4 linked regions of the Homo sapiens genome follow. The protein of the gene in region 1 interacts with the protein of each later gene in a pairwise test. Each region holds a gene or a part of one and is shown on either strand. Other genes may lie near its edges. The genes, in order: CARD10, BAHD1, C8orf48 and ZNF415.

Region 1 (8,028 bases):
GGGGGTGGTCAGGAGGGCCTGCAGCAGGTACTGGGGCTTGTGGGCACAGGCTGCGGGGTGGGGGATCAGGAAGGCCTGCAGCAGGTAGCAGGGCCAGGGCTTCTGGGCACAGGCTGGGTAGCGGGGCTCAGGAGGGCCTGCAGCAGGTACCAGGGCTGGGGCCCATGGGCACGGGGGTGGGGGGTGGTCAGGAGGGCCTGCGGTAGGTACCAGGGCTGGGGCTTGTGGGCACAGGCTGGCAGGAGGTCAGGAGGGCCTGCAGCAGGTACCAGGGCTGGGGCCCATGGGCACGGGGGTGGGGGGTGGTCAGGAGGGCCTGCGGTAGGTACCAGGGCTGGGGCTTGTGGGCACAGGCTGGCAGGAGGTCAGGAGGGCCTGCAGCAGGTACCAGGGCTGGGGCCCATGGGCATGGGGGTCGGGGGAGGTCAGAAGGACCTGCAGCAGGTACCAGGGCTGGGCCTCGTGGCCATGGGGGTTGAGGGGGGGTCAGGAGGGCCTGCAGCAGGTACCAGGGCCAGCGTTCATGGGCACAGGCTGCGGGGAGGTCAGGAGGGCCTGCAGCAGGTACTAGGGCCAGGGCTCGTGGACATGGAGTGGGGGTGGGGGTCAGACCCGGAAAACAGGCCCTCTTGCTGTTTGCTTATCCTCCCAAGGCCTGGGAAGCTGAGGATTTCAGAACCAGGGATCTGAGATCTGGATGGAGTCCCGGTAGCCTCTTGCCTGAAGCTCTGAGCTGAGGGCCCTTAGCACGTGGCTGTCCCTGGTTGTCTGGTCTAGGGTGTGTGAGCAGCCTCCAGAAGGTCCTCAAACTCCCTAAAACTGCCCCCCTGATTTTGAGTGTGAGCATTTTTCTGGGGAAAGGGCCCCAGCTTTAATTTGATTTGTAGAGGGTGTGGCCTGGGGGCCCTAGGGCTTGCTTAGTGTCCTGCGGCAGGTCAGTGGCAGGTCAGCAGCTGCATGGGCCTGCCTCCTGGCCATTGTTCCACACAGGAAGTGGGGGATGAGAGCCAGTGTGTTTCATGGGGTTGGGGCACTTGGCTGGGGTGTGGGTCTGGGGGCAAGATCTTGGGCCCAGGGTCTACCTGTATGGGCCAGGCTCAGCCCCTTGAAGACCCCTAGTCATGGGGGTGGGAGTAGGTCTTGGGAATGGCCTCCGTCTGCTGCCCTGGATGGTGGGTGAGGGCCAGAGCACGAGTGTGTGCCTGGTGCTTGTTTAGGAATAATCCTGGGTGAACTTGTCCAGTCACACCCTTCTCCACTTAGCTTATTAGCTTACTTGTACCCCAGATACTCCCTGGAGGGTGGGTAGGGCTTGTGGGGCCACACCCACTCTGCCGATGGGGAGACAGAGATCCAGAGAGGGTCGAGGCCCCGGGCCAGCATGGCAGAGCTGGTCAGGTGGGTTTGGAGGGCTGAGAGCTGCGTGTCCCCTTCCTTCCCACACCCAGGGTGGGCCCCTAGCCAGACCCTGAGGTGGCCCTGCCCTGTGATCCCCAGGAGGCGAGCCGGCCGGGGGCCCCGGGCTCCGAGCGCATCCTGCTGGACATCCTAGAGCATGACTGGCGGGAGGCGCAGGACAGCAGGCAGGAGCTGTGCCAGAAGCTGCATGCCGTGCAGGGGGAGCTGCAGTGGGCCGAGGAGCTGCGCGACCAGGTGGGGCCCTGCCCGTGCCCTGCCCCTTGTGCGGGAGGGTGTCAGGCAGGGCCTGTGTGCTCACGCCTTCCCTGAGCATCTGCTTGACGCAGGCGCCGCGCTGAGAACTGCATTCATTTGTTCTCAGATGTTGACGGAGGCACCCTTCTAGGCGCTTGAGATGCCGCAGTGAGCAAAACAAAGGTGCCTTTTCCTTGAGGGGGAACTCCAGCAGGGGAGACTGGCAGTATGTGAGATACACAGTCCCACGTCAGCTATTTCATGTAGTCAAAGGCGATGAGCACCGTGGGAGATGCAGAGCTGGGGAAGGGGCCGGTTGCAGTTTGAGTGGGGAGGCCAAGGGTGGCCGGATGGGTGAAATGATGATCATTCTTCTCGTTTTACAGATTAGGCAGTTGAGGGCCTGTGAGGTAAAGTCAGTGGCTCAGACCACTCCACTGGGCAGGAGGGGACTTGTTATTGGGTCTCAGACTGTTGGTGAGCGTCTCTCACTGGCCCTCCTGGGCACCTGCTGGTTAGCTTTCTCATGGTCCCCAGCCCTGTGGTCTGACCCCGCCCCGTGCCACCCTCAGTACCTGCAGGAGATGGAAGACCTGCGGCTCAAGCACCGCACGCTGCAGAAGGACTGTGACCTGTACAAGCACCGCATGGCCACTGTCCTGGCCCAACTGGAGGAGATTGAGAAGGAGCGAGACCAGGTGAGCCCAGCCTGCGTGTACGAGGCCCTGGGCCAGTTGCTGCTTCCCATATGGGAGGAGACAAGGAGCAATGGAGGGGACTAGAATGGTAGAAAGAGACGTTAGCCGCTCCCTGTTGGGTTAGGACGGGGCACAAAGGCTGGGGGAACCAGACAGGAGACCTGGAGCCCTTGAGATACCAGCCTTACACCCTGGACCCACTGGCCTCATCTGAGCTCCTGTGGCAGTTACAGAAGCTGGTCCTGGTGTCTTCATTTTTGAATCCCTTGTTCTGTCCATCTCAAAGACAAGGCCAGCACAGAGGGAGTGCTTACAAATAGAAGCCGATGAAGAAATTCTCAAAAGTTTTGGCTTTCAGTCCCTGGGCACTATGACCCTTGTCTCCTGCCAAGGTTGTGGGGTGGGCTGAGGACCTCCGGCCAGTGCCACCAGGCCCCCGAGCCTCCTTGTGTGAGGTTCCATCTGCAGCGGGGAAGGGCAGGAGGTTTTTGTCCTTAACCAGGTGTGAATCCCACTAGAGGAGTTGAAGTCTGTATATTATTGTTGTTATTACTTTTTGAGACTGAATCTAGCTCTGTTGCCCAGGTTGGAGTGCAGTGGTGCAATCTCAGCTCACTGAGGCCTCCCAGATTCAAGTGATTCTCCTGCCTCAGCCTCCCAAGTAGCTGGTATTACAGGCATGCCACCATTCCTGGCTAATTTTTGTATCTTTAGTAGAGACAGGGTTTCACTATATTGACCAGGCTGGTCTTGAACTCCTGGGCTCAACTGATCCACCTGCCTCAGCCTCCCAAAGTGCTGGGATCAAAGGCATGAGCTCCCATGCCCAGCCGAAGTCTGCATATTAGAAATGCCCTCAGAATCCCCTGGCAAGCTTGAAAGTGCAAATTTGGGGCTTCATTCTCTGGACGTTCTGATTCAGGTGGTCTGGGGTGGGCCCCAGGAATCTGCATTTTATGGGGCTGCCCCCGGCTCTCTCTGAGGCATGGGTGACAGGTCTGGACCATGGGCCCAGCTCTGGAGCCCCTGGTCTTCACTGTGGATGCAGTGGGCTGGGTTTGACTCCTGGCTTCTCCACTGACTGGGATGCTGGGAGTGAAGCCCCTGGCACACAGCAGGTCTCGTGGAAAAGTTTTCAGTTCTTGGTGAAATGGTGAGAGCCTGGATTCTGCAGATGGACTGCCCGATTTGAATCCCAGCTCTGTCGCTCCTGGCTTGGTTTCCCCAGTCTGCAGAATGAGAATAATGATATTAATAGTATCTAACTTAGCCAGTTAGTGTGAAGATATTTAAATGAGCTGATAATTTAGCTCAGGGCCCGGCACACAGTGCTCAGTAAGTGATAGCTGCCATTCTCCTTACTGTCCCCATTCTCCAAGTCATAGGCCAGGAAAGCTGGGCCAAGGTGGCTCCTTCAGCTGCTGCCTCCCCTCCCCCAACCCTAGGCCATCCAGAGCCGTGACCGGATCCAGTTGCAGTACTCACAGAGCCTCATCGAGAAGGACCAGTACCGCAAGCAGGTGCGGGGCCTGGAGGCGGAGCGGGATGAGCTGCTGACAACGCTCACCAGCCTGGAGGGCACCAAGGCTCTGCTGGAGGTTCAGCTGCAGCGGGCCCAGGGTGGCACCTGCCTCAAGGTGAGCGGGTCAAGATTGTGGAGGTCCTGGCAGGAAGGCTGGGGTCCTGGCAGGAGCTCTTGGCCAGGGCTGGGAACGTGCCGGCCCTGGTGGGAGACCTCAGCCAGGGGAGGAAGCTTGGGGGAAGTGGGAAGAGTCCTCAGTTAGGGGCGGGAACTTGAACCCAGGCTGGGCTGGGTGTGGGCTGGTGAGCAGGCGGAGGGGCATGTTGGTCTCTGAGTTTCTGGGGTTGCTTCTGGGACACTAAGAATAGTTTGGAGCTGGTCTTTGCATTTAACTGGGGAAGGCTGGCTGCCTGAGTGCCTGTGTGCATGTTAGAATGCAAAACCTGGGCCTCAGAGACCAGCTAGTCAGGACTAACATGGGCCTAAGCATCCCTCAGAGACCAGCTGGTCTAATCCTCTCATCGCACAGGGCCCAGAGAGGGTGAGGGGCTTGCCCAAGGCCACACAGCCAGCTAGCACTGGAGCTGGAGTCCCAGACCCACTGTAAATTGGATCGTGGTCCTCAGGCTGCTGCCGGGAGCTCTGCTTTTTCCTTTTTTTTTTTTTTTTGAGACAGAATCTTGCTGTATCACCCAGGCTGGATCCCAGGTTCAAGTTATTCTCGTGCCTTAGCCTCCCTAGTAGCTGGGACTACAGGTGCCTGCCACCATACCCAGCTAAGTTTTTTTTTGTATTTTCAGTAGGGATGGGGGTTTCACCATGTTGGCCAGGCTGGTTTCAAACTCCTGACCTCAAGGGATCCTCCTGCCTCAGCCTCCCAAAGTGCTGGGATTAGAGGTGCGAACGCCCAGCCTGCGTTTTCTTATTTTGAGTTGCCTGACAGTGAGCTCCGCAGGCCTGGTGTTTGAAGCACTGGGGCCTGGAGGAATATAGGAAAAGTCAGCATTAATCCAAGACTTTTTTTTTTTTTTAACCCCCAGTGGCTTTTTTGCTGTTTGGTAAAGACAGAGTCCCTTTTCATGGCCAAGAGGCCCTGCGGGTGGGGTTCCTCTTGTCCTCTCGCCTGGTTCTGTGGGTTCCAGTCTTTCAACTGGAATGCATCACAGTCCTGCCTCAGGGCCTTTGCACATGCTGTTGATCTGCCTGGACCATCCCAGCTTGACCTACTTAGCGCCTCTATACCCTTGAGTTCTCAGTTCAAACCACAGTTTCTTTGGAGAGTACTTGGACTCCCAGGCTGGGTGGGGTCTTTGTGTGTTTTCCATGCCCTGGGCACCTTCCTTCTGCTATTGTCTCAGCTTGGGGCTATTTTGTTCACATGTCTGCTGGTTTACAGTTTATCTCCCATTCTAGGCTGTGAGCTCCCTGAGGACAGGGATCTGTCCCTGTGCTGGCACATGGCAGGTGCTCAGTAAAGGACTGTGGTTGACGTGGGCCTAGCACTGCTCACCTCCTTCCTCTCCTCTCCCTCTTCCAGGCCTGTGCCTCCTCCCATTCCCTGTGCTCCAACCTCAGCAGCACTTGGAGCCTGAGCGAGTTCCCCTCCCCTCTGGGAGGCCCAGAAGCAACTGGGGAGGCAGCTGTCATGGGGGGACCTGAGCCTCACAACTCGGTAAGACAACTGCCCCATCCCAAATAAGGGGGGACACTGCTATAGCATTATTACTAATGTGGAGAGTGCTTTCTGAAGGATCCATTTCACAGGTGAGGACACTGAGGCGCAGGGAGGCCAAGTACTTTACTGAAGCTCACCCAGAACCATTTCCTTGCCAGGCATAGGTGCCAGGAGGCGTGGGGAGCCACCCGCACACTATAATCTTGCAGAGCCCGCTCTTCTGCTCTGGGCCCTACTTCTCATTTGTGGAATGGGCACAAACCAGGTGTGCTGAGGACTGGGATGGTGCTGGGCAGTGGGGGTGACCCAGGCCCTGTCATGGCATTGCAGGAGGAAGCCACAGACAGTGAAAAGGAGATCAATCGGCTCTCCATCCTGCCCTTCCCCCCCAGTGCCGGCTCCATCCTCCGCCGGCAGCGTGAGGAAGACCCCGCACCCCCTAAGAGGTGAGATGGCTGGGGATAGCAGTAGACACCCAGGGAGGTGGGGCTGCCGTTTCCCGAACAGCCACCTCCCAGAATCTGCAATGCCAAAGTCAGGTCCAGGCAGTCACTTCCCTTTATTGCCCTCAGATGGCTGGAGCTCTGGAAACCCAGGTCCTGTGAGTCACAGGGGCGACCAAGGTCAGGCTTAAGATAAGGCCGATGGGCAGAGCGAACTCAGTCCTAGCCAAGCATCCTGGCAGGAGGGTCACTGGGGGTCAAGCCTTGAAGATCCTATACCCAAGGAGAAGCTTGATGGTTCAGGACTAGGGGGCGTGGAGAATGTTTCAAGGTATCAGGGACCTCCGGCAAGAAAGCCAGGCCCCAGGTTTGGGCATCAGCAGCAAATAGGGACCAGAAAAACCAAGGCGCACCCTCTGGTGGCAAGACCAAGGGCGGGAGATAGCCTGCCTCCTGGGGCGCGATCCTTGTCACTGCTTTTCCCCTGTAAGCAGCCCTTGATTTATTCCTTTACTGGTGAGAGGCTGGGCCCTGGGAGGCTGTGGTCAGTATGGCCTTGATCTGCGTAAATCTGTCCCAAGGAGGTGTCTGATGAGGAGGTCATGGTTTAATTTAGGAGGCGTACCTGGGAGTCACAAACCACAAAGGTGGCAAGTGAGGGTGAGGTGAGGGGTGAGAGATCAGGGGTGGCTTCCAGGAGGAGGTGGCATTGAAAGAGCTGGCTTTGAAGGGCATGCCAGGGCATTGTAGGTGGAACAACATTGGACAGAGGCCAGGACATTAACTTCTTACCCTGGGAGTTTAGGGGAGCCAGGTGGCATGGGTGCCCTGTACCTGGGACCCTGCCTTGAGTCTAGCCTGCATTTGCTTGGGGGCTGTGAGACATTTATCTGGTGTGGGGGCAGGAGGAGGGAGCGGGGCAGAGTGCCCACTGTGCCTCACCTCCTGCCCCCTCCCTGCCCTCTCTCTGCCCAGATCCTTCAGCAGCATGTCAGACATCACAGGTAACAGCCCTTGAGTTCCGTGGGGAGGGCTCCTCTGGTCGGGGGAGGTGGCTTTGCAGCCCACCTGAAGCCTGCACCACCTGCGCTACCTTTGGCCTGCATCCCCTTCCCTGAAGCCCCGCCGTGGCCCCTGCCAGGCAGGAAGGTTGTGCTTGGGAGGACCCTGGGGACTTTGGTTCCAGCCTCTCACCCCGAGCCCAGTCCTGGGCCTCACTCCTGTTCCCGGCTGTGATGTACGAGGCTCTTCAGTTCTGGGCCACCTTTCACCCTCTTCTGGGAAACTGCGGGGTCAGCCTGGTGGGCCCTGACCTATCTCTGAGCCCAGTGGGTCTGATGTGCTCCTGGGGCCTCAAACCTGCCAAGGCCTCTCTGGGCTGGAGGGGGGTCAGTCCCTGTCATGGACCCTGGCCATCCCTGTTTCCCAGTGCCAGATCCCTGAACCTCATTCTTTTTCCCCAGGGAGTGTGACACTTAAGCCCTGGTCCCCTGGCCTCTCTTCGTCCTCATCCTCTGACAGCGTGTGGCCTTTGGGAAAGCCGGAAGGCCTCCTGGCTCGGGGCTGTGGCCTGGACTTCCTCAACAGGTACTGTAGCTGCCTGCAGTGGGTGGAGCTGGGGTGATTGCTTGAGAGGGGAACAGGAGTGAGGTGGGAGGAGCAATTGCCTCGCCCCTGTTTTATGCAACTATTGGAAGATTAAGATCTGTAGACACTGGCAGCCCTTGGATTCCAATCCTGCTGCCGCTCTTGATCGTCCCTGTGACTTGGGCTGGTCCCTTCACTTCTCTGGGCCTCCATTTCCTCAGTAGCTAAAGGGAGATGATGACCCTTTTTGCATGGAGGTCTTTTGAGGGCTCTGCTCGCAGAAGCAAAGCACCCAGCTCTGCCAGGCATGTAGCAGGTGCTTAGTAATAGTTGTCACTTACAAGCTGTCCTCGTCCCAATGTCCTGCCTGTCAGTCCCTTGGCTCTGAGTCCCTGGGACTGAGCCACCCAGCAAAGTTTCATGCTGTGGGTGGGCTTGGGTCACCTCAGG
Region 2 (8,028 bases), on another chromosome or scaffold:
TCTGTCTTCTTGTCCTCCTGTGGCCAACCTCAGAAGCCCTGCGTTTGGGGAGGGGATTGTTAATGCCTTGGTTATACTTTTGGAAGAATAGATGGACTCCTGGCCGGGGGCAGTGGCTCACGCCTGTAATCCCAGCACTGTGGGAGGCCGAGGCGGGCAGATCACGAGGTCAGGAGATCGAGACCACCCTGGCTAACACGGTGAAACCCCCTCTCTACTAAAAATACAAAAGAAAATTTAGCGGGGCGTGGTGGCGGGCACCTGTAGTCCCAGCTACCCGAGAGGCTGAGGCAGGAGAATGGCGTGAACCTGGGAGGCGGAGCTTGCAGTGAGCCAAGATCTCACCAATGCACTCCAGCGAGACTCCGTCTCTCAAAAAAAGAAAAAAAGAAGAAAGAATAAATGGACTTCTACCACCCAGTCCCCCATCTTGGGAGGCTCTGTCTTCAGAGCCTCTTCCTATCCTGTGATGAATATCTAGTGAGAGAAGGACAGGGGGAGAGAACAAAGAGCTTTGCCACCAGCTCCTCCTATCCCCTGTCCCTGGGGTCTGCCTTGCTCCCTAGGCTCTTCAGGGGCTTAGTTCAGAGATACCCTAGGCTAAAAGGAAAGAGGAGGAACCAGTCCTTGCACAGCTGCTGGTAGCTTGATTCCACTGCCCCTTCACACTCTGGAAAGGGAGTCCCAGGAAAATCCATACTGGAGACAGGGTAGTTGTAGGCCAGGATCACTGCACCTGGGGCTGGGTAGGCTGCAGTGGGAGAGAAAGCAGGCAGGAGCAGGCCAGAGAGGGCTTCTCTCATTGCCCACCTTCTGTCCTGCAGGTTGGAAGTACTCCATGACACACACTCGGAGAAAGTCCCTTCCCATGCTGAGTTCGGGCCTCACTGGCCGCCGAGAGCCCCTGCAGATGGAAGACAGCAACATGGAGCAGGGGGTTGAGGGTGTGGAGCCAGGCATGCCCGAGAGCCCAGGTCACCTCACAGGGCGCCGCAAGAATTACCCACTTCGTAAGCGCCCATTGGTTCCTGAGAAGCCCAAGGCCTGCAAAGTGCTGCTGACTCGCCTGGAGAATGTGGCCGGTCCCCGGAGTGCAGATGAGGCTGATGAGCTACCGCCTGACCTGCCCAAGCCCCCCAGCCCGGCCCCATCCAGTGAAGACCCTGGCCTTGCCCAGCCCCGCAAGCGGCGCCTGGCCTCCCTCAATGCTGAAGCTCTCAATAACCTGCTGCTGGAGCGAGAGGACACCAGCAGCCTGGCAGGCACCCGCCGCAGTCGAGCAGGGGATCCCCACCGCAGCCGTGACCGTGATCGTGCTACTGGGGGCTGGTCCTCCTCCAAGAAGCGGCCCCGGCTGGGGGACCTTGGAGGAGGAAGTCGGGACCTGTCTCCAGAGCCAGCACCCGATGAAGGTCCCCGCCGAGATGGAGACCCAGCTCCCAAGAGACTGGCTAGCCTGAACGCAGCTGCTTTCCTAAAACTGAGCCAGGAGCGGGAGCTACCCCTGCGGCTGCCTCGTGCCCATGCAGAAGTAGATGGGCGCTCCACTGAGCCCCCAGCACCCAAGGCCCCGAGGCCAAAGTGGCCCAAGGTCAATGGCAAGAACTATCCCAAGGCTTGGCAGGGGGCCAGCTCTGGGGAGGCTGCAGGCCCACCTGGCTGGCAAGGCTGCCCTGATGAACCATGGCCATCTGCAACTCCTTGTGGGCCATCCGTCCAGCCATCTCATCAGCCCCTGAGCAAGGCTCTGGAGAGCCCTTTGGGGCTGCGCCCTCACCTGCCCCTGCTGATGGGTGGACAGGCGGCTCTGAAGCCGGAGCCTGGGCGCCCAGGCGAGGAGTCACCTGCCCCTAAGCAGGAACTGCATCAGCCCTCTTTCCCCACACCTCAGCTGTCGCCGCTGCCGATGCCTGGCAACCCCGCCGACTACAATGGCCTGTGTGTTGGGCCTGAGCTCACTGCACTAGGCAGCTTCTACCTGTACTGTGGCCAAGAGGGGCTGCAGTGTGGGGGCTACTCGCCCTGCCCCATGCTTCCTGAGGGCAAGCTGTCCCCAGTGGCTGCACCTCACGAGGAGGGGCTCCTCTTAGCTCCGAGCTCAGTGCCCTCAGGCACCCCTTTCCAGCACCCTCCCTGGGGCTCCTCTCGCTACTGCTCTAGCGAGGACACTGGAGTGAATGGCTACAGCATCTGCGGAGTGTTGCCCCTGTCTGTTACCCACGCTGGCACTACCTGTGGCGGCTGCCCATACAAAATGCCTTTTGCAGCAGGTGAGGCTTCCTGGGCCCAAGATGTACTGGGGAGTCTCGGAGACATGGCATCCCAGGAGGTTGGGCTGTTGATCTGAGCAGGGGTCTCCCTTGGGGTCTGGCTGCTAACTGGAAGGTAGGGGGCTTTCAGAAGTGAGAACTCCCGTAGTCTGTGCCCCAAGCCGAGGAGCATTCCCAAGAACAGGGCCCGTATAGCTCTGGACAGCCTTGCTCTGCCCAGGCTACCTTTGGAGATTCTTGGCCTGGCAGTTAGGTAGCATTGCAGTGGTACAGGCCACAGGAAGGCCTCTCTTCTCTCCTCATTGGGATACCCGTTCTTAGACTCTGAAGAGCAGGTTAGATATTGGAATTAGGACTTTTACCAAATTGTTCTCACGGCCCTTCTACCCTCCTTGAGGAAAGCTAGAATTCCCTAGTTTCTAGAAACCAGTACTCTCTGCATGCTGGCCAAGTTCAGCATTCATGGGAAAGGTGGTAGGTACCAGGCTCAGTAGGTGGTACCTACTGCACAGGGCAGCTTTGCCCTGGCTATAGAGGCATTGAAAGAGAAGTGCCCAGACTGAGCATCACTTTGCTGGGTGTGGATAGAGAGGGTGCACCATGAGAACAGACAAGCAGAGTTCCCTGACATGGATGGAATGCGATCAGGGCCCACAGCTTTGGTGTCTGCCTGCCTGACAAGACCCAGACACCTGAGAGGCCCATGCTCCGGCTGTTGAGACACTCCCAGAATCATTTCTCTTCCCTAAACTGGCAGAGGTATCCTCACCTGCCTCTTCAGGCTCCCTGCCTGCCTCCTGGGTGGAAATGAGACATGCTGGCCAGCAGGTCTGCCCTGCTGCTGGGGAGGTGAGGGCTGGACCTTCCAGATCTCCCTTCCCCTGACATCCTTTCTTGTAGGGGTCTATAAAACAACTTTATAGACCAGTTGGCCCTGGCCAGACTGGTTGTTTCAGGTTGTGGCTTGAGTTAGAGTTCTTATGACATGAGAACAGGCTGCTGCTTGGGGTTTTCCTTCTTTTTTTGTGCCATTCCCCAAGTCTAGACCCTTATCCCCTCTCCCTAATAATAAGGACACCAGTAAACACCATGTACCAGGCACTGTTCTGAGTGCTTTACATATGGGAGGCTGCTTGGCATGTAATTGAGCACAGACTCCGAAGCCAGACTGCCTGGAGTGAAATGTTCTCCCCCACTTTCCTAGCCATGTGACTATGGGCGAGTCAGTAACTGCTCTGTGTCTCAGTTTTCTTAACTATAAAATGGGTGTAATGATACCTATCTCACAGGGTTTTTGTAAGGATGAAATGAGTTAATGTGTTCGTAAGAAAACCAGCCAGTTGCTCTGAGGGGCAGAGTGACTTGCCTGAAGTCACATGGCTAGTAAGTGGCAGAACCCAGGCTGATTCTAGAACCCCTATTCCCAAGCATTATGAAAGCCTTAGAAAATTAATATCAGGGCCAGGCGCGGTGGCTCATGCCTGTAATCCTAGCACTTTGGGAGGCTGAGGCGGGCAGATTGCCTGAGCTCAGTAGGTTGAGACCAGCCTGTCTAACATGGTGAAACCCTATCTCTACTAAACATACAAAAAAATTAGCTGGGTGTGGTGATGGGCACCTGTAATCCCAGCTACTCAGGAGGCTGAGGCAGGAGAAATGCTTGAACCCGAGAGGCGGAGGTTGCAGTGAGCCAAGATAGCACCACTGCACTCTAGCCTGGGCAACAGAGCGAGACTCTGTCTCAAAAAAAAAAAAAGTTCGGAGTTAAAAAGGATGTTCCAACCACCTCTCTTTCAGACTAAAAGGGGAGATGGCCAATCTCCAAGATCAGGAAACACCCCTGTCCCCTTAGAGAGTCACTCTGACAGTCCACCATAAAAAGGCCTCTGATCCCATCGGCCACCTCAGTGGCCTTTGGTTGCACAGTTAGAATTAAGACAGGAGCAGGCTCTGAAAGCAGATGGGTGATGGGGGTCACTGCTTGTCCTGTCCTGACCACTCTCTCCCTTTCCTAGAAGGCTGCAGATCCCTGGGCCAGTTGGAATTTCCTCTCCCGGAAGCTGGCCACCCAGCCTCACCCGCCCACCCACTCCTGGGGTGCCCTGTACCCAGTGTGCCACCTGCAGCAGAGCCCGTCCCCCATCTTCAGACACCCACCTCGGAGCCCCAGACAGTAGCCCGTGCGTGCCCTCAGAGCGCCAAACCTCCCAGCGGTTCTAAGTCAGGTCTGCGCACAGGCTCCAGCTGCAGGCACACTGCAAGGAGCAAGGCTGCCCGCAGGCCTAGCCACCCCAAGCAGCCACGTGTCCAGCGCCCACGCCCTCGCCGCCGCCGTCGCCGCCGCACTAATGGCTGGGTACCTGTTGGGGCTGCGTGTGAGAAGGCTGTGTATGTCTTGGTAAGTGCTAGCTCTTAGCTGATGACGAGAGGGAGGGAGGCAGTGGGGACACATGACCTGCAGTGAGGTAGGTGCTAGAAGCACCTGGTTCTAGCTACTCTGAGAGCTGACAAGGGACTCCAGTTTACTTGTACCCCAGGAACCAGTCATGCTGGCCCACCCAGCTTGCTTCCCTAGCCCCCTACTGATCCTGTACCAGACACCCCAGGGAGGTCAGGAGACACACAGTCATAGCTGGTGGCTGCCATCTCGGTGAGTGTCTTCCCCTCCCCTCCCTGCTCACTTTGTCCCTTACACCCTGGATTGTAAAGTGGAGGACTTTCAATGGAGAACTTTTCTGGATAAGTCTATATAGGGGGCGTTGGAATGGGCAGAGAAAATTAGTGACACAGAGAACATCTCGGATGATGAAAAGAGGCCAAGTGCGGTGGCTCACATCTGTAATCCCAGTACTTTAGGTGGTGGAAGTGGTAAGATCGCATGAGGCCAGGAGTTCAAGACGAGCCTGAGCAATATAGACCTCATCTCTACAAAGTAAAAACATTAGTTAGCCAGGCATGGTGGTGTGCACCAGGAGGCTGAAGTGGGAGGATTGCTTAGGTCCAGGAGTTCAAGGCTGCAGTGAGCTGATTGCACCACTGCACTCCAGTCTGGGTGACAGAGAGACCCTGGCTTTTAAAATTAATTAATTAAAAACAAAAAGAATATTAACTAAAATTTATTGAGGCTGGGCAAGGTGGCTCATGCATATAATCCCAGAGCTTTCAGAGGCTGATGCTAGAGGATTGTTTGAGCTCAGGAGTTCAAGACCAACCTGGTCGACATAGCAAGATCCTGTCTACAGAAAAAAAATTTTTTTAATTAGCCAGGCATGGTAGCATGCATCTGTAGTCCCAGCTACTTGAGAGTCTGAGGCAGGAGGATCACTTGAGTCCAGGAGGTTGAGGCTGCAGTGAACTATGGTTGCACCACTGCATTCCAGCCTGGGTGACAGAGTGAGACCCTGTCTCTAAAAATAAATAAATACATAAATACATAAAATTTATTGAGCACTTCTTAGATGCCAGAACTGAGCTAAGCATTTTGTAAGTATTATGCCCTTTAATCCTCACCACTACCCTATGTGGTATATATCCCATCTTCCTATAATTAATCCCATTTTACAGATGTGGAAGCTGAGGCTTAGCAATACTTTAAATAATTTGTCAAAGGCTGTGCCCCTTATAACAGTGGTTTAAGGGTTCAGACCGAGACTTGTTCCATTAGGAAGCATGAGCACTTACCCAGCACTGGGGGTCTTGGAGTGAGAGTCAGCTGTCGGGTATGGTGGTCAGAGCTCAGCCCCAGAAGCTTCAGGCCACTTTTCCACCCCTATTCCCTTTTCTCATCCTTTCTCCAACCATGAGAATTCCCCAGCCCCATCCAAAAAAGGATAGTGGTTTGACAAAACCAAGGTAGTGGTTTGACTATCTTGAGGAAATCGTGGAAAGGATGTCATTCCCTCTCTCTGTCCTTACTCTGAGTGTGGCTCTGCAAGCCTATTTGTGTCATTGGTTTGTTGCCTAGGATGAGCCGGAGCCAGCCATCCGAAAGAGCTACCAGGCGGTAGAGCGGCATGGGGAGACAATCCGAGTCCGGGACACCGTCCTTCTCAAATCAGGCCCACGAAAGACCTCCACACCTTATGTGGCCAAGATCTCTGCCCTCTGGGAGAACCCCGAGTCAGGTACCTCTCCCTCTGGCTGGGGACCCAAGGGGCAGCTGCCTTCAGCAGAACTGTAGTCCCCAGATTGGCCCCTGCCTGGAGTTTGACCTGGCGTGAGTCTCCCCGTGTTCCTGGCACAGAGTCTGCCTTCCACTCGGCTGGGGTCTCTCTGCTGCCGAGGGCTGTGGGTGACCTTGTGGCTTGGGTTGGATCAGCTCATTAACCTTTCCAGCCAGCAGAGCCTGGGCACCTGTCCCCCCACCTCACCTGTCAGTGCCTTCTCCCCCTTCTCCCTCCATGCCTAACAGCATTCCAGGCCTCTGAATGCTTGGCCTGGGGCAGGGGACATGGGTTGCCGGAGCCTGCAGGATTGAGGTTGGATGAACCTCCAGGGCAGCCAGCCAGCCTCTCTGCCTGTCTAAGTAACTCAGGTTGCCAGTTCAAGCCATAACCACTGTGTTGTCCTTCCAGGAGAGCTGATGATGAGCCTCCTGTGGTATTACAGACCTGAGCACTTACAGGGAGGCCGCAGTCCCAGCATGCACGAGGTGAGCTGCCTGGCAGATGGGTCAGGGAGGGCAGGAGAGACAGAGGGAAAGGTTATGGCACTAAGACGTGGTAGGGGGAGGGCAGCCATGGGCTGTAGTCAAATCCCTGCGCTTGTCACTTTGGACTCCAGAGAACCTGGGAAAGGGCCCAGGATTTATTCTCTTTTCCCAACACTGCCCCAATTCATGTTTCAAAGGGAATAATAACCTTTGTCTTAAAAAGAGGAACAGAAAGGGAACCCTTGAGGTAGCAGGTGCCAATGGGAGCAAGTGGATGTGTTCCCCTGGAAACAGGAAAGGTGAGGTGGAGCTGCATACCTGGTCACTTTTGGTATTTTCTGTAGTAGGGGAGGGGAGGGGAGGAAAGACTCCTCCTAACACCCCATAGGCTCTCCACCAAGCTGTGTGCTAAAAGAGGTGACTGCCATCTGTGTGTGCCCTGGGCTCACCTTTTATTTCACTTTCCCTTGCAGGGACTTTCCATCTAACTGGAAAGATGAAGAACATTTCCCCTCTCCTACGCTAGGCAGGGCTGGGGTTTGGGAGGTCAGTGACAATCAGGGGCTAGAGCAGATACCTGGCTATTCTGGAGAAGGGGGGGACCTAGAAGGGACTCAGGAGGAATGCCTGGAGGCAGTAGGTGAGGCATACTTAGGCTGAATTTCCAGGGAAGCTTGCTGGAGTCATCTCAGGTCAGCAGGCCCAGCAGAGGGGTTAATGTCTGCCTTGCTCTGGGAATGAGGTGCTTTCCAGCCCTGGTAACAACCTCCACCTGTCTCCCTTTGAGCCCTTGCAGAATGAAGTGTTTGCATCGCGACATCAGGACCAGAACAGTGTGGCCTGCATTGAGGAGAAGTGCTATGTGCTGACTTTTGCCGAGTACTGCAGGTAGGTGGTTCCCTGCACCCTCTGGCTGGCCTCTTCCCTCAGGCTCCCCAGGCATATTTGGGGCTGCTTGGAATTCCCCGAGAGGATCTCATTCTGCTCTCTACCTGATCTTACTCACTGAGCCTAATCTCCCAGAACTTACTTCCCTATTGCTTGCCTCTACCATCTGATATTTTTTGGAAGAAAGAAGAAAAATTGTGTTGCCACACTGAGGTAGAA
Region 3 (7,095 bases), on another chromosome or scaffold:
TATAGAGGAAATAGATAATAAATGGCTTCTCAGAATGCCATCTAACATTTTTCTCCATAAATGTGTTTTCAAAATGCCATGGTATTCCTTGTGGAATAATACTGTTTCCTCATTACATAAATTTGGATGAACAACAGAAGGTTCATAAAATCTTCACGACCAAAATGGCTATCTAGATAATTTGTTTAAGCGTTCTTCTCTCAAAACTCAACACCTAACCCCAGCTTTACTTCTTCTTCCCCTTACAGCTAAATATTTCAAGGAGTACCCTATATCCATTCATTATTTACTTACATTTTTCCTCAATCTATTTTGTCTGCCCCATTTGTATAAGTGAAATGGCTTTTGCTAAGGTCAGCAGTGCCCAATACATGACTAAATCATCTTTACATGGCTTCTCTGTTGATTGATGTGGTTAGACAACTATCCTTCTTTAAATATTCATTCCTTAGCATCTATGACACTATACATTCCTGATTTCCTTGATCCACTTGATAACTTTTTTCACAATCTTTTCTGCAGGTTTATTTTTCTCTACTTAGCCATTAATTGGCATTTCTCAAGAGTTTGTATCAACCCTGCTTCTCTTCTTATTCATTTCCAAAAACGCTTGACAATCTACGGCTTCAACTTCCAGCTATATGCCATTGATCCCCACCCTTCCCCCAGTCCTACCCCAATTTATTTTGCACCTCTAGGCTATACCTTTCCTCTGAAGCGCAAAAACAAATAATCAAATGTTTCTTCAAACTGTCAATGTGTATGTCCCAAATGCACCTTATATGTCCAAATAATCATACTCTTCAACAGTTCCATCAAACATAGTCCTCTTCTGGTGTTCCTGTCTTAATGAAATTAATGATCATTCATCCGGGCGCACAAGTCAGAGCCTTAATAACATTTCAAACATCTACTATTTATTAATTCCCCATAGCCATTTGATCGCCAAAGACAGTTATTACTTTTTAAGTTTCTCTTACATCCCCATACTACTTTGCTTCTGTACCATCAACATCCTGGCCCAAACTACCAACATAGTTCTCTTGGAATTTTGTAAAAGTTTTTATAACTATTCCAACTACAACAGTGCCTTCTATAATAGGAAAAAAAAAGTGAAAGTTCTTAGTCCTCAAATCTGTGAAGGAAGCATAGTAAAGTCTTAAGTTAGTTTCCCAAGTGCCTGTAGAAATTATGGTAATTACTCAAATACACAACAAAGACATCTATCCACATTACACATTATCATTAACAATCACCAGCTCTGGTTTGATTAGAGTAAGTCGCTTGAGAAATGGCAGAGAAAATGGTAAATGACAAGCACTATTTCCATCTCGCTGCAACTTCTGCTCTGTCTCTGATCTTTCAAAACCAGAGTATCTGATATGACTTTTCTCAGTCAGTCTTTTCCAGATTATTCTGGGGTCATCTGAAAGCCTGGGAAAGTCTTGATGTGCTTCTCCAATACGGGTGAGAAAGTCTTTGGTATGAAGATGTTCATCTATTCTCTCTTGGAGTAGAAATGACTCCAGTAAAGTCTTCTTTTGTTTCAGAAAGGCAGACAGGGCCAGCTCCGCTCTTTTCCTGTTACAATAGGGACACTGATAAGATATGTGTTGCTTAGCTGCTGCCTCCTGTTTTGGCGTTGTCCTCATGTTTTTAAAGTAGATTCTGTTCAAAAGTTCATCGGGTACAGTACAACTAAAGGCATCTCTCTCTGAAGCCTCTACATCCAATCCAAGATGCAGCTTTTTATGTCTGCTGCTCGTCTTCTTCTTAGAATCCCCTCTACGATGAATCAAATTTATCTTCATGGTGCAATAAGACTGCAGGGCATTCAATTCTTCATCTGATACCCGAGTGATTTCTGTTGGAAGTTTGGTGTCTGGTTGGTGCCGTTCAAAGTTAGAGTCTTTGAGCTTGAGGTAGTTGATCCATTTTTTACTCAACTTCTTTTCATAATTTTTATAGTCCAAAAGCTCAGATTGTGTGTCTCCTTGTTCCAAGCTTGGAGTCTGCTTTTCCCTCTCCAGTTTGCTCCCAGAGGTCAGGGGCGAGGACTGCCGTCCTCCAGAGGAGCTGAATGAGCTGGAAGTCTGTACCTCATCAGTAGAGTTCTTCAAAGTCTCAGTCTCATCAGAAAGGTTTGCAAGAGCACTTTTGTCCGTTTGGGCCAATTCTGGGCAGATGGCCATCACAATGCATCAGGCTCGGCTCCTCATCTCCTTTGCCCAGGTTAAGACTGGCTCAGGAACCCGTCAGGAGCTGACCCCTCCGGGAATGGATCTCAATGCCATCAGCTCTGCGGAGGTCGTCTTCCGGGAGACGCCTTCCCAGCTGTCTTGGCAACGCGGGCCGCTCATGCGCAGTGACTGGCCACCATGCGGCGTCCCGCCTTTTCCTCCGCGCTCCCCAGCGCCCACTGCGCTTGCGCTGCTTGCGCCGGGTTGGCGATTTTGCCCTGTCTTCTGCACTCCTGCTTCTCTTTGGTGCTAAAGTCGAGTAGTCAACGGGAAAACCTTGCAAACTCTGTTTCCCAGGGGTCAGACAGGTGGCACACGTGTGTGAGACCAATAGAGTTAGGTGGCCTGTGACAAATCCGAACGTGTACGCCCGCCTAAATGCATCTAGATTTAAAAATCAAGCAAAACGCGCTGGACAAGATGCACAAGCAAAAACTTGTCTGCAGTGTTTATAGCCAAGAGACACCTCCTTGTAGAGCATGTCTTTGGGGAAAAGTCAAAATACAGAAACCATTCTGTAAGAAGTAGTGTTCTGTGCTCCAGCATTCTGAGGACCTCGAAGTTTGGGCGGGGTCGGGGGTGGGGAGCAGGGGCGGGGGAGGACCTTAATTTTCCAAATCAGTTTCTCTGGCCTTTTGTCCATACAGGTCCCCTCTGGCTAGCATATCCACGCCCGTCCTCACTCTTAATATCGTTAATTTATCCTCCTCCTCCGAGTCCCATTTCCTCAGGAAGGGCTTAATACCCACCCCTGCCTTAAACTCTTTCCAGCATTTTTTTTTAAATAGTGTCCAACTATGTGATTGTATGAGTATCTGATTATGAAGGCTGAAGGCAGAAATCATGTCGGTGTTGCCGACTAGTATGAGCCCAGCAATCAGCAGACACATAGCAGGTGTTCAAGAAATCTCTGTTGAGTGAATGGCTATGGAACAAATAAATCTTACCTTACACACGTCCAGAGGATTTGGAGAAATAAGTACTATAAGTTCAGGGAACTCTAACCTTTTTTCTAACTGAATCCCCAAACTTAGGCTATTACACAGGATATATTTTTTATTAATGGATTCATTTAAAAAACACAGTAGAGTTTTATTAATTATCGTGAGAAATTATAAAATGTTAACTCTAGAGATGGACTTTTCCTAGGTTATAATAGTTCTTGAGTCTAGGACTTAGTCAATGTCTAGGATAATTTTAAGAGCCTAGACACCCTTCTTTCTCAGTTTTGTCTCTCTCTCTCTTTCTTCCTGTGTTTCTTGGGGATTGGGGGGTATTATTCAGGTCTAGCCAGATATATTCCCCAAATGTTCATTCTGGCAAAAAGTGAAAGTCAAATATTCAAAAAGCATCTCTCAAGTATATGAGCCAGCTTCCTGTTGAAGATAAGGAGACTCCAACTTCATTTATTCAACCCAAATTTTATTTTATCATATAATGGTAGTCTTTAAAAAAGAGGTGGCATGTAATTTGTGAGTAACTCCAAGTAATTTCCAATAGGGCTCAATATTTTCCTTATTTATTATTTCAAATCTCTGCCTCATTCTCTGAATATTTACACATTCATATTTACACACTATTCATGTTTTAGCTATATCTTATCCATAACATTGAACAAGGGAGCTATACTTAAAATAAAATCTATCTGTGTCTTCTAACATGCCAAATGTCTGGGGTAATCTGTCTTTTTTATAATCGTGTCTTAAATTTCTCTTGATTTTTAAAAATAACTTTATCCTAGAAGGAGATATATGTGGGTGGGAAATTCTATAATTAATTTCCTTGTAATATTCAGCGTGACCCAGTGGACAGTTTTACATTCTAGTAAGTGTGTTATCTAAGGAAGAAAATTTCTCAACAGTACTATATTTATCAAATAAGATTCATGAAAACACAGGTCAAAGTTTGATTTTAAACAAATATGAAGAGTAATAGTTTTCCTTTGGAAATCTCAATCTTCTTGCCATCTCTCAGGGGCTGTTGGGAATGTCAAAATGCTTTGTGGACCAAGCTGTGGCTGAAGGCTGCTTGTGGTGGGGATTGGGAGATATGAAGAATAGAAAAGAGAGTCCAGTCAGGCTCTCTTGGCCTAACCTTGCTATGCCCCTCCTGTTACTGTTCTGCAGCTACTTTCTCTTCTTCCTAGTTCCTATCAGAGAGCAGGGCCAAGGGTCTTCTCCCAGCTTTTTCCTTAATGATCAAGAATGCTTTGCAGCTATAAGGCCAACCCCAGAAAGAGGAAGTCAAAACAAATTCATGATTCCCCTTCTCTCTTGCTTTCCTTTCCTATGGAGGGAGAAAAGCAAACTTTCAGCATCTGTCACTCTGGCAAGCAATTCTCCCCCCAGATATCATAAACGTTTCCATGATGAGTTGGCATTTGGCAGGTACCTCTTCCTGGTGGTGTGCAGTGTACAAAGTGGGAGTCTAGTTTAAGTATAAGAGAGACTACGATGACAGAGCCTTCAAAAATATTCTACCCTTTACATCAACTTCTCAAGTAACGCTGTGCTTGGTTCTGTAGATGCAGCAAGATGAAATGTTTAGCTGTTCTCCTAGGGGGCTAAGTTGAATGTGACAAGAATCTCACTGTAATGGCCATTTTTGTGAAGGAAAGAATCGTATATCACTCAAGATGAAAAATGATTTTATTTATAGTTGTTCAATTTTTTTGTGGTTCAGTACTTGTTCTTTATCTGTAAAATGTTTTTACCTCACAATTATCTCCATCTTTCTATTCTGTTTTCTGCATCTTTGGTGTTATTATCTTTTTTCTGAAATTGATTAATTGCCTTGTGAATAGCTGCCTTCTACTTTAATAGCTATTTTTTTGCAAAAGTAATAATATAGGTTTACTGCAGATTTTTAAAAAAGAAAATGATAAGCCACAAATACTGATTTTAAGCAAAAGCTACCTATATTCTGACTTCCCAAAGATAATTACTATAAACATTGATAAAGTGTTGTAATATTTTTCTTGAATTTCTTAATTAAAATCTAGATTATACTGAATTTTGGTTTTATGAACAATTTTTTCCAGTTAGTAATAAAATGAACCTTTCCATTCATTGTAAAAATTATTTTCAACATAATTTTAAAGGTGGTTTTGCATTATTTGATTCGTTTAACAAATACATTCAGATGCAAGGTATTTCTAGTTTTTTTGCTATGAAAAATTATTCCTTTAGCTAAATCTTTACATACATTTCTAGCTATATGTTTAGGATAAATTCCAGAAATCATAATTCGTGGGTCAAAATGTATGCACATTTTTAATGCTTTTGAGATCTGTTTCTCCTCTATAGATTAAATTGACAGATCCTTCAAAAATATTCTACCCTTTACACCAATTCTGCAAGTGTCACTGTGCAAGGTTCTGTGAATCAAGCAAGTCTCTTCTCCTAAGAGACTAAGTTAAAGATGCCAGGAATCTCGCTGTGAGGAGCTGATTCTTTCTGGAGGAAAGAATCTTACATCACTCATGATTTTTTAAAAATTATTTTAATTTATAGTTTCTGTACATCATTTTTTCTAGGATATAATGTTCTTTTGTCCATAAATACTTTGTTTTATATCTCTTACAAGTTAGGCCTTTTTAAAAACAGCCACATTGTGACCACATCTAGCAAGTGACGATAAATCCTTAATATCATCTAATAATTATTCTGTGTTCAAATTTATCTGACTGCCTCAAGAATGCCTTTTTGCAAGTTGAAGTGTTAGAATCAGGATCCAAACAAGGTCCACTGACTGCATTTGGCTAACGTAGTCCTCAAAGGTTTTACTTCCTAACACTTCCGAAGTACAAATAATTTTTATAAATGAAAAAGTAAAAAGGAGCAGGAAGAGAAGTTTAGTTTTCTTCTCTGTTCTTGCCATTACGTTCCCTATAGATAATCATAATTTTAGAGTTTTCGATTATCTTTCAAAAATGTTTTGAAAATATAAATACGTCTCTCATACATGTGTTCCTCTCTTGTTATAAAAACACATTGACATACTCTACACATTGCTTTATGGCGTTTTTTTTTTGTTTTTTTCTTAAAAATATATTCTAGATACCACTTTACAACAGCATATAGACATCATTCTCATTTATTTCTAAGATTGCATAGTATTTCATTGTAGAAATGTAATGTATTTTATTCACACATTTTGACGGGCATTTTGCTATTATAAGAAATCAAAATTTGCTTTGTATCTGTGGAGATATATTTTCAAGATGAATTTTAGGAATGAGATTACTATATCAAAGATGAAGACATATGTAGTTTTCTACTTACTTCCAAATCCCCCTCCACAGGCAGTACACATATGACATTTCTGCCAGCAATGTATGGGAGCATCTGTTCCCAAAAGCCTGGCCAGCAGGGTATGTTCTCAAATGTATGGATTCTTGCCAATCTAAAGGATAAGAAATGATATCTCAGCGTAATTTTAAATTGAATTCTTCTTATTAGCAGTAAGAATGAACACCATTTCATGTGCATAAAGGCCACTTACATTTCTTTTTCTTTTTATGTGTACCATATATTCTTTTACCTATTTTTATATAAATTTTGTTTTTTTCTTTTCAATTCTCAAGAGTCACTTCATATGTTGGAAATATTATTTATTTGTCTGTGACTTGGTTCCAAATAGCTCTTCTCAGTTTGTCTATTTGTCTATGCTGTGTTTTGCCATGTAAAAGTTTGATTTTTCTCTCATATATCAAATGTATCAATCTTTTTCCTACTTGCCCTTGGATTGTTTACACTAGTTTTTATTTTATTTTGTTAGTTATTTTTTATTTAAATTGACCCGATTACTTCTTTTAGTGTACAGCTCTGTGAATTTTAACACATATATGGGTTCT
Region 4 (8,028 bases), on another chromosome or scaffold:
GCTTCTCTTGATTCTTTCTGCTTCCACTGTCTGGATCCTGATGACACCAAGGTCTCAAGGGGAGAATAGAGTCAGAAGGTGGGGGCTATGCTGGGCTGACCACATGTGAGTAGAGCTACCCCCTGGCTTCATATGAAAGTGCTGGGGTACTTTGCAGATATACCTCTTGTGCCCCCATCCCTGTCCCAGAGATTCCCATTCACACAGGTTGGGACCCACCCTCGATAATACAGTGCCCAACATGATTCTAATCTATATCCAGCCCTGAACACCAAGGCTCTGTGTCCTCTATTTCTGAGGGCTGAGCCCAGCCTGGGATCCAGAGAGGGAAAGGGGGCTGTGCTCTGCATGGGGTTTAATCAGGGCTGGGTCTCCTCCCCACTGCTGCAGCATGTGTGTGAGCTTCTCCAGGAGGGGAGGGAGTTCTGAAGAAAGGGGTCAGAAGACTCATGTATTGGTTTTCCTGTAGGAGTTTCTTGTCCCTGGGGCCACCCTGGTGTAGTGGGCGGCAGAGGACCGTCTTTGCACAGGGCGAGCTCCTCCCTGTGTATGTGTGTGCTTGTCACACAAGAGGGGGTGTGTTGTTTCTAAGCAATAAACAGCACTTGTTGTTGTTATTCAGCATTGACTTCCAAAGACTCCTGGCACATGAGGAAGAAACCCAGAAGAGGAGAGCAAAGGAGTCAGGAATGGCTTTTACTCAGGTAAAGAAAGATTCTGTGTGGATCATTCTGTCTCCCTCTTTTCAGAAAGGTGGGAGACAATGCCTTGGAGCTGCAAATCTTCTCTGAGTCTGAAGCATCCTGCCTGACGCGTTTGCTCACATTGACCCGTGCCTTCCCTCAGTCCTTCTCATCTCTACTGAGATTCCGTCTCACCCTGACCCTGTGACATGAACTTCTGAAGAGTCCACTGGGCATGGTCCTGGGAAGGGCTCACACCCAGACATGGATGGAGACGGGGTGAGGGTCCCGTGGTGTCAGTGCTGTTGGGCAGCAGGGATTGTTCAGGGGCCACATTTGGATGCACTGTCGGCTCTCCGTAGCCCAGGAATAGAGAAGCTGCCCATGGAAGTCATGTTTTTTGTTGTTTTTGTTTTTTGTTTGTTTGTTTGTTTTTGAGATGGAGTTTCATTCTTGTTGCCCAGGCTGGAGTGCAATGGCGCAATCTCGGCTCACTGAATCCTCTGCCTCCCGGGTTCAAGTGATTCTCCTGCCTCAGCGTCCCGAGTAGCTGGGATTACAGGCATGCACCACCACAACCAGCTAATTTTGTATTTTTAATAGAGACGGGGTTTCTCTATGTTGGTCAGGCTGGTCTCGAACTCCAGACCTCAGGTGATCCACCCACCTCGGCTTCCCAAAGTGCTGGGATTACAGGCATGAGACACCGTGCCTGGCCTAAAGTCAGGTGTTAATATAGACAAATACCTGGTAAATCCTGGAAAAGGCAGCCAATAAGGGGATATATTTTGTGCCTGATTTTGTAATCCAGATAAAACTAGTATATCAGTATGTCTCTGACTCCACACTGTTAATGACTTGGAATGGAATGTAAAGTTGAGATACAGACATCAGTACTAGAGGGCGTTTTATTCCTTTATTGACTTTGAAACATAAAGTCAACATAAAAGTGTAACTGTAAGGCCGAGCACGGTGGCTCAGGCCTATAATCCCAGCACTTTGGAGGCCGAGGTGAGCGGATCATTGTAGGTCAGGAGTTTGAGACCAGCAAACATGGTGAAACCCCGTCTTTACTAAAAATACAAAAATTAGCCAGGCGTGGTGGCGCACGCCTGTAATCCCAACTACTCAGGAGGCTGAGGTAGGAGAATCACTTGAACCTGGGAGGCAAAGGTTACAGTAAGTGGAGATCGCACCACTGCACTGCACTCCAGCCTGGGTGACAGGGCGAGACTCTGTGTCAACAACAACAACGACAAAAATAAAGTATAATTGTAGGACTTTTTTTTTTTTTTTTTGAGACGGAGTCTCAGTCTGTCGCCCATGCTGGAGTGCAGTGGCTCGATCTTGGCTCACTGCAACCTCCACCTCCCAGGTTCAAGTGATTCCTCTGCCTCAGCCTCCCAGGTAGCTGAGACTACAGGCACCCGCCACTATGCCTGGCTAATTTTTGTAGAGATGGGGTTTCACTATGTTGGCCAGGCTGGTCTTGAACTCCTGACCATATGATCTGCCTGCCTCGGCCTCCCAAAGTGCTGGGATTACGGGCGGGAGCCACTGTGCCCGGCCAGCTGTAGGACTTTTTTTTTTTTTTTTTTTTTTTTTGAGTCTTCCTCTGTCACCCAGGCTGGAGTGCAGTGGCGCGATCTCAGCTTACTGCAACCTCTGCCTCCCAGGTTCAAGCAATTCTCCTGCCTCAGCCTCCTGACTAGCTGGGATTACAGGCACGCGCCACCACACCTGGCTAATTTTTGTATTTTTAGTAGAGACGGGGTTTCACCGTGTAGGTCAGGCTGGTCTCCAACTCCTGACCTCGTGATCCATCCACCTCGGCCTCCCAAAGTGCTGGGATTAGAGGCATGAGCCACCGCGCCCAGCCAAGTTTTTAAACCATTCTCAGCACTTGCATACCACGGAGATGGTGCTATTCCTGCAGGGTCTCTTAGGCATCAGATATTTTAGGTAAAAATGGTAACAGTTTTGCTCAGACATCAGAGCAGAACTCCTTTTTCATTAAAGAGGATATATCCATATTCTTATTATATGTATTGTTATTAAGTATTATGCTGCTTTTATTTTAAACATCACATGATGTATATATTTGTTTTATGGTGAAACTCTCAATAGAGATATTTAGTGCTTAGATATAGAGTATCCCTTTTCCTGTCAAGCCTTACACCCTCACACAGGTCTCAGTGGTGAGCCACTATTGTCAGTTCTGTGAGAACAGACAGCTCAAGCCCTGTTGAAATGTGTTTAATCATTGTGAGATTTTAGAACAATATTGTCAGTAAATGTTTTGTTAGGGTATTCTATCCTGCAAGTTGTGAATATTTACACGTTTTCGTATTAAGGAACAAGGATAGCTTGCTCCTTTTTCAAGTTGATACATAATATTGGTTCATATTTAAGGGGCAGATGTGATATTTTGTTACGTGTGTCATAGAATGTGTAATGATCAAGTAATGGTATTTGAAGTGTCTATTACCTTGAGTATTTATCATTTTTATGTGTTGGGAATATAGCAAAATATTCAATTTGCTAGTATTTTGATGAGGATTTTTACATCTGTGTTCAGGAGGGATTTCGGCCTATAGTTTTCCTTTTTTTTTTCTTTTCTGGTTTGATATCGGGAATGCTGGCTTCATAGAATGAGTTAAGGAGAATTCCCTCCGTTTCAATTTTAGTTTGAGGAGAATCAGTCTTAGTTCTTCTTTGAAAGTTTGATAGAATTCGGCAGTGAAGCCATTTGGTCCCAGACTTTTCTTTGTTCAGAGACTTTTTATTCCTGATTAAATTTCATTATTGGTCTGTTAAGGTTTTCTGAATCTTCCTGATTCAGTCTTGGTGCTTCGTGTCCAGGATTTTATCCATTTCCTCTAGGTTTTCTAGTTTGTTAGTGTGTAGTTATTTATAATAGTCTCTGATGATCTTTTATATTTCTGTGTTATCAGTTGTAACGTATCCATTTTATTTCTGATTTTGTTTATTGGGTCTTCTTTTTGATTAATCTAGCTAGTAGTTTATAGATTATATTATCTTTTTTAAAAATAACCAACATTTCATTTTGTTGATCCTTTGTGTTTTTGTAGTATTTATTTTGTTTAGTTCTGCTCTGATCTTTGTTATTTTTTTCTTTCTACTAATTTTGGGTTTGATTTGTTCTTGCTTTCTTAGTTCCTTGAGGTGCATTGTTAGACTGTCTATTTAAATTTTTTTTTTTTTTTTTTTTTTTTTTGAGATGGAGTCTTGCTCTGTCACCCAGGCTGGAGTGCAGTGGTGCAATCTTGGCTCACTGCAACCTCCACCTCCCTGGTTCAAGCGATTCTCCCATCTCGGCCTCCAGAGTAGCTGGGATTACAGGCACATACCTGGCTAATTTTTGTATTTTCTTTTTTTTTGAGACGAAGTCTCCCTCTGTCGCCCAGGCTGGAGTGCAGTGGCTCGGTCTGGGCTCACTGCAAGCTCCGCCTCCTGGGTTCATGCCATTCTCCTGCCTCAGCCTCCCGAGTAGCTGGGACTACAGGCGCCCACCACCACACCCAGCTAATTTTTTTGTATTTTTTTAGTAGAAGCGGGGTTCACCATGTTAGCCAGGATGGTCTTGATCTCCTGACCTCGTGATCCGCCCGCCTTGGCCTCCTAAAGTGCTAGGACTACAGGCGTGAGCCACTGCGCCCGGCCTAATTTTTGTATTTTTAGTAGAGATGGGGTTTTACCATCTTCGCCAGGGTGGTCTTGAACTCCTGACCTCAGGTGATCCACCCACCTTGGCCTCCCAAAGTGCTGGGATTACAGGAGTGAGCCACCGTGCCTGGCTTATTTGAAATTTTTCTACTTTTTCCAAGTAGGTGTTTATTACTATAAACTTCCCTCTTAGCATTGCTTTTGTTGTATTCCATAGGTTTTGACATATTGTGTTTCCATTTTTACTTGTTTCAAGATTTTTTTTTTTTAATTTCCCCCTTAATTTCTTCCTAGACCCAGTGGTCATTTAGGAGCATGTTGTCTAATTTCCATGTATTTGCCAGTTTTCAAAGTTTCTCATGGTATTGATTTCTAATTTTATTCCATTGTTGTTCTAAGAAGATACTAAGATTTTGATATTTTAAAAATGTGTTGAGACTTGTTTTGTGTTCTAATATGTAGTCTGTCTTGGAGAATGTTCTATGCGCTGATGCAAAGAATGTGTATTCTGTACTTGTTGGATGAAATGTTCTGTAAATATCTCTTAGATCTGTTTAGTCTAAAGTGCAGTTTAAATTCAGTGTTTCTTTGTTAATTTTCTGTCTAAATCAGCTGTCTAATGCTGAAATCCCTAACTATTATTATTTTTGGATTGTGTCTCTCCCTTTAAATCTAATAATATTCGCCCTATATGTCTGGATGCTCCAGTGTTGGGTGCATATATGTTTAGAATTGTTATATTCCTCTTATTGAATTGATCTCTTTATTAGTATATAATGACCTTTTTCATCTCTTTTACTGTTTTTAACTTAAAATTCATTTTGTTAGATTGAAGTAGAGGTACTTCTGCTTGCTTTTGGTTTCATTTGCATATAATACCTTTTTTCATATTTTCACTTTGAGTCTATTTGTGTCTTTACATTGACATGAGTTTCTTAAAGGTAGCATATAGTTGGGTTACACGCTTGTATCAATTTAGCCAGTCTATATCTTTTATGTGGAAAGTTTAATCCATTTACATAAAGTTCATTATTGATATGCGAGGGCTTATTACTGTCACTTTATTAATTGATTTCTGGTTGTTTTGTATGTTTGCTCCTTTCTCTAATTGTTTTTCATTGTGGTTTGGTGGTTTTCTATAATAGTAACATTTACATTTGACTCCTTTCCTTACTTGCATGTTTGCTCTAACAGTGGGTTTTATAGTATTGTGTGTTTTCATGACGGCCAATATTGTCCTTTTGCTTCTAGATGTAGGGATCCCTTAAGCATTTCTTGTAGGGCCAGTCTAGTGGTGAAGAATTCCCTCAGGCTTTGCTTCTCTGGGAAAGACTATTTCTCCTTTTTATGAAGGATAATTTTGCTGAGTATAGTATCCTTGGCTGGCAGGGTTTTTTTTTCTTTCAGCACATTTAATGTATCATACCATTCTCTGTTGGCCTGTAAGGTTTCTATTGAGAAATTTCCTGTTTTATGGAGCACCCTTTATAAGTGACTAGATGCTTTTCTCTTGCTGTTTTTTTTTAGAATTCTCTTTCTTTCTTTTTTTTTTTTGAGACGGAATTTCGCCCTTGTTGCCCAGGCTGAAGTGCAATGGTGTGATCTCGGCTCACCGCAACCTCCACCTCCCAGATTCAAGCAATTCTCCTGCCTCAGCCTCCCGAGTAGCTGGGATTACAGGCATGCACCACCACGCTCGGCTAGTTTTGTATTTTTAGTAGAGATGGGGTTTCTCCATGTTGGTCAGACTGGTCTCGACCTCCCAACCTCAGGTGATCTGCCCACCTTGGCCTCCCAAAGTGCTGGGATTACAGGCGTGAGCCACCACGCCCAGCCGAATTCTCTTTCTTTTTCTTTGACTTTTGACAGTTTGACTATAATGTGCCAAGAAGACATTTTTGGATTGTATCTCTTTGAGAATCTATGAAATTCCTGTATCTAGATATCTAAACCTTTTACTATACTTAGGAAGTTTTTGGTTATTATTTTGTTAAATAGCTTTCTATCTTTTTTGATTTTCTCTCCACCTTCTGGGACACCAAAAATTCAAATATTTGGTCACCTTATGGTGCCTGCCCCATATGTCACATAGGCTGTGTTCATTCTTTTTTATTTCTTTCTTTATTTTTGTCTGACTCGTTTATTTCAAAAGACCTGTCTTCAAGTTCTGAAATTTTTTCTTTTGCTTGATCCCTAGTTCATTGTTGAAGTTTTCAAATGTACTTTGTACACACATGCCTATAGTCCAGCTACTTGGAAAGCTAAGGTTGGAGGGTCACTTGAACCTGGGAGATTGAGTCTGCAGTGAGCCATGATCATGCCACTGCACTTCAGCCTGGGCAGCAGAGCGAGACCTTGTCTCAAACCAAAAAAAAAAAAAAAGAGAGAAAAAAAACCACAATTAGGGAGAGATATGTACTCAAAAATACCTTAGTGTGGATTTATCAGAACACACACTTCAATTAAATCTATACTTAAATTCTCTTTTATTCTTATTTTGTGTGAAGATGGTAACTCCCTTCATAACCTCTTGGTGAAATGTGTTTATTATTTTACGGACAGTTGACATTCAGGGACGTGGCCATCGAATTCTCTCAAGATGAGTGGAAATGCCTGAACTCTACACAGAGGACTTTATACAGGGATGTGATGTTGGAGAACTACAGGAACCTGGTCTCCCTGGGTGAGGATAATTTTCTTCCAGAAGTCAAAATCTGCCCTTGGTATCTTTCCATTTTCCCTTGTGTGCCTCTTGGGAGCCCCTGCATTACCTGACTGAGTTTGAGGCCTTGTTGACTCTGAAATGAAAAGCTCCATAATGTGAACTCTGGAGTTTAACCATCCCCTTTTTCCAGATTTTCTGACCCCTTCATGATACAACAGTGGTGGTTCCAGAGCTGAAGTATCCATGAAAGCTTATGGTAGACTTCTGAAATACTCACTTCTTGTTTTCTGCCCCTGTGCTTTGATTCAGTAGTTCTTGGAAGGGAGCTAGATATTTGCATATTACAGTCTTCCCTAAGCATTCAGAGTTGGCATTCAGTGAAATAATTTGTGAAATATTTTCCTAGATCCATCTGTGATAGCCTCTCTTCTTATCCAAGCAAAGGGCTGAGATTCTTGAAAAGCCACAGCACATCATGTTCCATTCATTTTATAAGCGGGAAATTCTCTTCCTGACCAGAGTATTATCCTATGTGGGAGCACAGGAAAGAGCCCTGGACCATAGAAAGCCAAGTACGAGTAGCAAGAAAACCAAAAGGGTGGGAATGGATCAAAGGTGTGAAAACAGGTAAGACCTCAGATGAGGGGAGAGGAAGCCACACCATTACACTATGTTTGGAAACTCTTAGCAAGTGGGAGAGTTCTGTAGGAAAACAAATGTTTATATCCTGTGAGCTCTTAGAGGAAATTTTAAACTTCCCCTACTTCTCCCTCTGCTCTTGAGACGTGTCATAGTTGATCCTTTTGCTGTCCAGTGGGGGCTGCAGCTCAAACAGAGACAAATGGAAGTGCTCATCATGATGGACAGCATTGCCCTCTGACTTCCGTGAACTCTCTGGCTCCTTCACTCTGAGGGGTCCGGGAGGGGCCACATCACAAGGGTCTACTTCTCCCGTGGTCTCTCCTGTTATTTGTTGCTGTTGTTCTTTTTTTT

Evidence for each region.
Region 2: the proteins of CARD10 (region 1) and BAHD1 interact in binary tests that used the Homo sapiens proteins (3 or more experiments, as listed by UniProt).
Region 3: the proteins of CARD10 (region 1) and C8orf48 interact in binary tests that used the Homo sapiens proteins (3 or more experiments, as listed by UniProt).
Region 4: the proteins of CARD10 (region 1) and ZNF415 interact in binary tests that used the Homo sapiens proteins (3 or more experiments, as listed by UniProt).

What each region holds. Positions count from the first base shown.
Region 1 is NC_000022.11:37,502,152-37,510,179, reverse strand, and holds part of CARD10 (caspase recruitment domain-containing protein 10), read left to right. Parts: intron 1-1,497; coding exon 1,498-1,653; intron 1,654-2,225; coding exon 2,226-2,351; intron 2,352-3,796; coding exon 3,797-3,988; intron 3,989-5,410; coding exon 5,411-5,545; intron 5,546-5,878; coding exon 5,879-5,994; intron 5,995-6,966; coding exon 6,967-6,995; intron 6,996-7,454; coding exon 7,455-7,578; intron 7,579-8,028. UniProt on the Homo sapiens protein: Scaffold protein that plays an important role in mediating the activation of NF-kappa-B via BCL10 or EGFR.
Region 2 is NC_000015.10:40,457,627-40,465,654, forward strand, and holds part of BAHD1 (bromo adjacent homology domain-containing 1 protein), read left to right. Parts: intron 1-824; coding exon of another isoform or gene 825-838; coding exon 839-2,270; intron 2,271-4,285; coding exon 4,286-4,668; intron 4,669-6,234; coding exon 6,235-6,394; intron 6,395-6,844; coding exon 6,845-6,921; intron 6,922-7,708; coding exon 7,709-7,809; intron 7,810-8,028.
Region 3 is NC_000008.11:13,562,089-13,569,183, reverse strand, and holds C8orf48 (uncharacterized protein C8orf48), read right to left. Parts: upstream 2,316-7,095; 5' UTR 2,193-2,315; coding exon 1,233-2,192; 3' UTR 896-1,232; downstream 1-895.
Region 4 is NC_000019.10:53,115,338-53,123,365, reverse strand, and holds part of ZNF415 (zinc finger protein 415), read left to right. Parts: intron 1-622; coding exon of another isoform or gene 623-689; coding exon 690-704; intron 705-749; exon of another isoform or gene 750-947; coding exon of another isoform or gene 948-962; intron 963-6,932; coding exon 6,933-7,053; intron 7,054-7,441; coding exon of another isoform or gene 7,442-7,485; exon of another isoform or gene 7,486-7,510; coding exon of another isoform or gene 7,511-7,662; intron 7,663-8,028. UniProt on the Homo sapiens protein: Involved in transcriptional regulation. Transcriptional activity differed among the various isoforms. All isoforms except isoform 3 seem to suppresses the transcriptional activities of AP-1 and p53/TP53.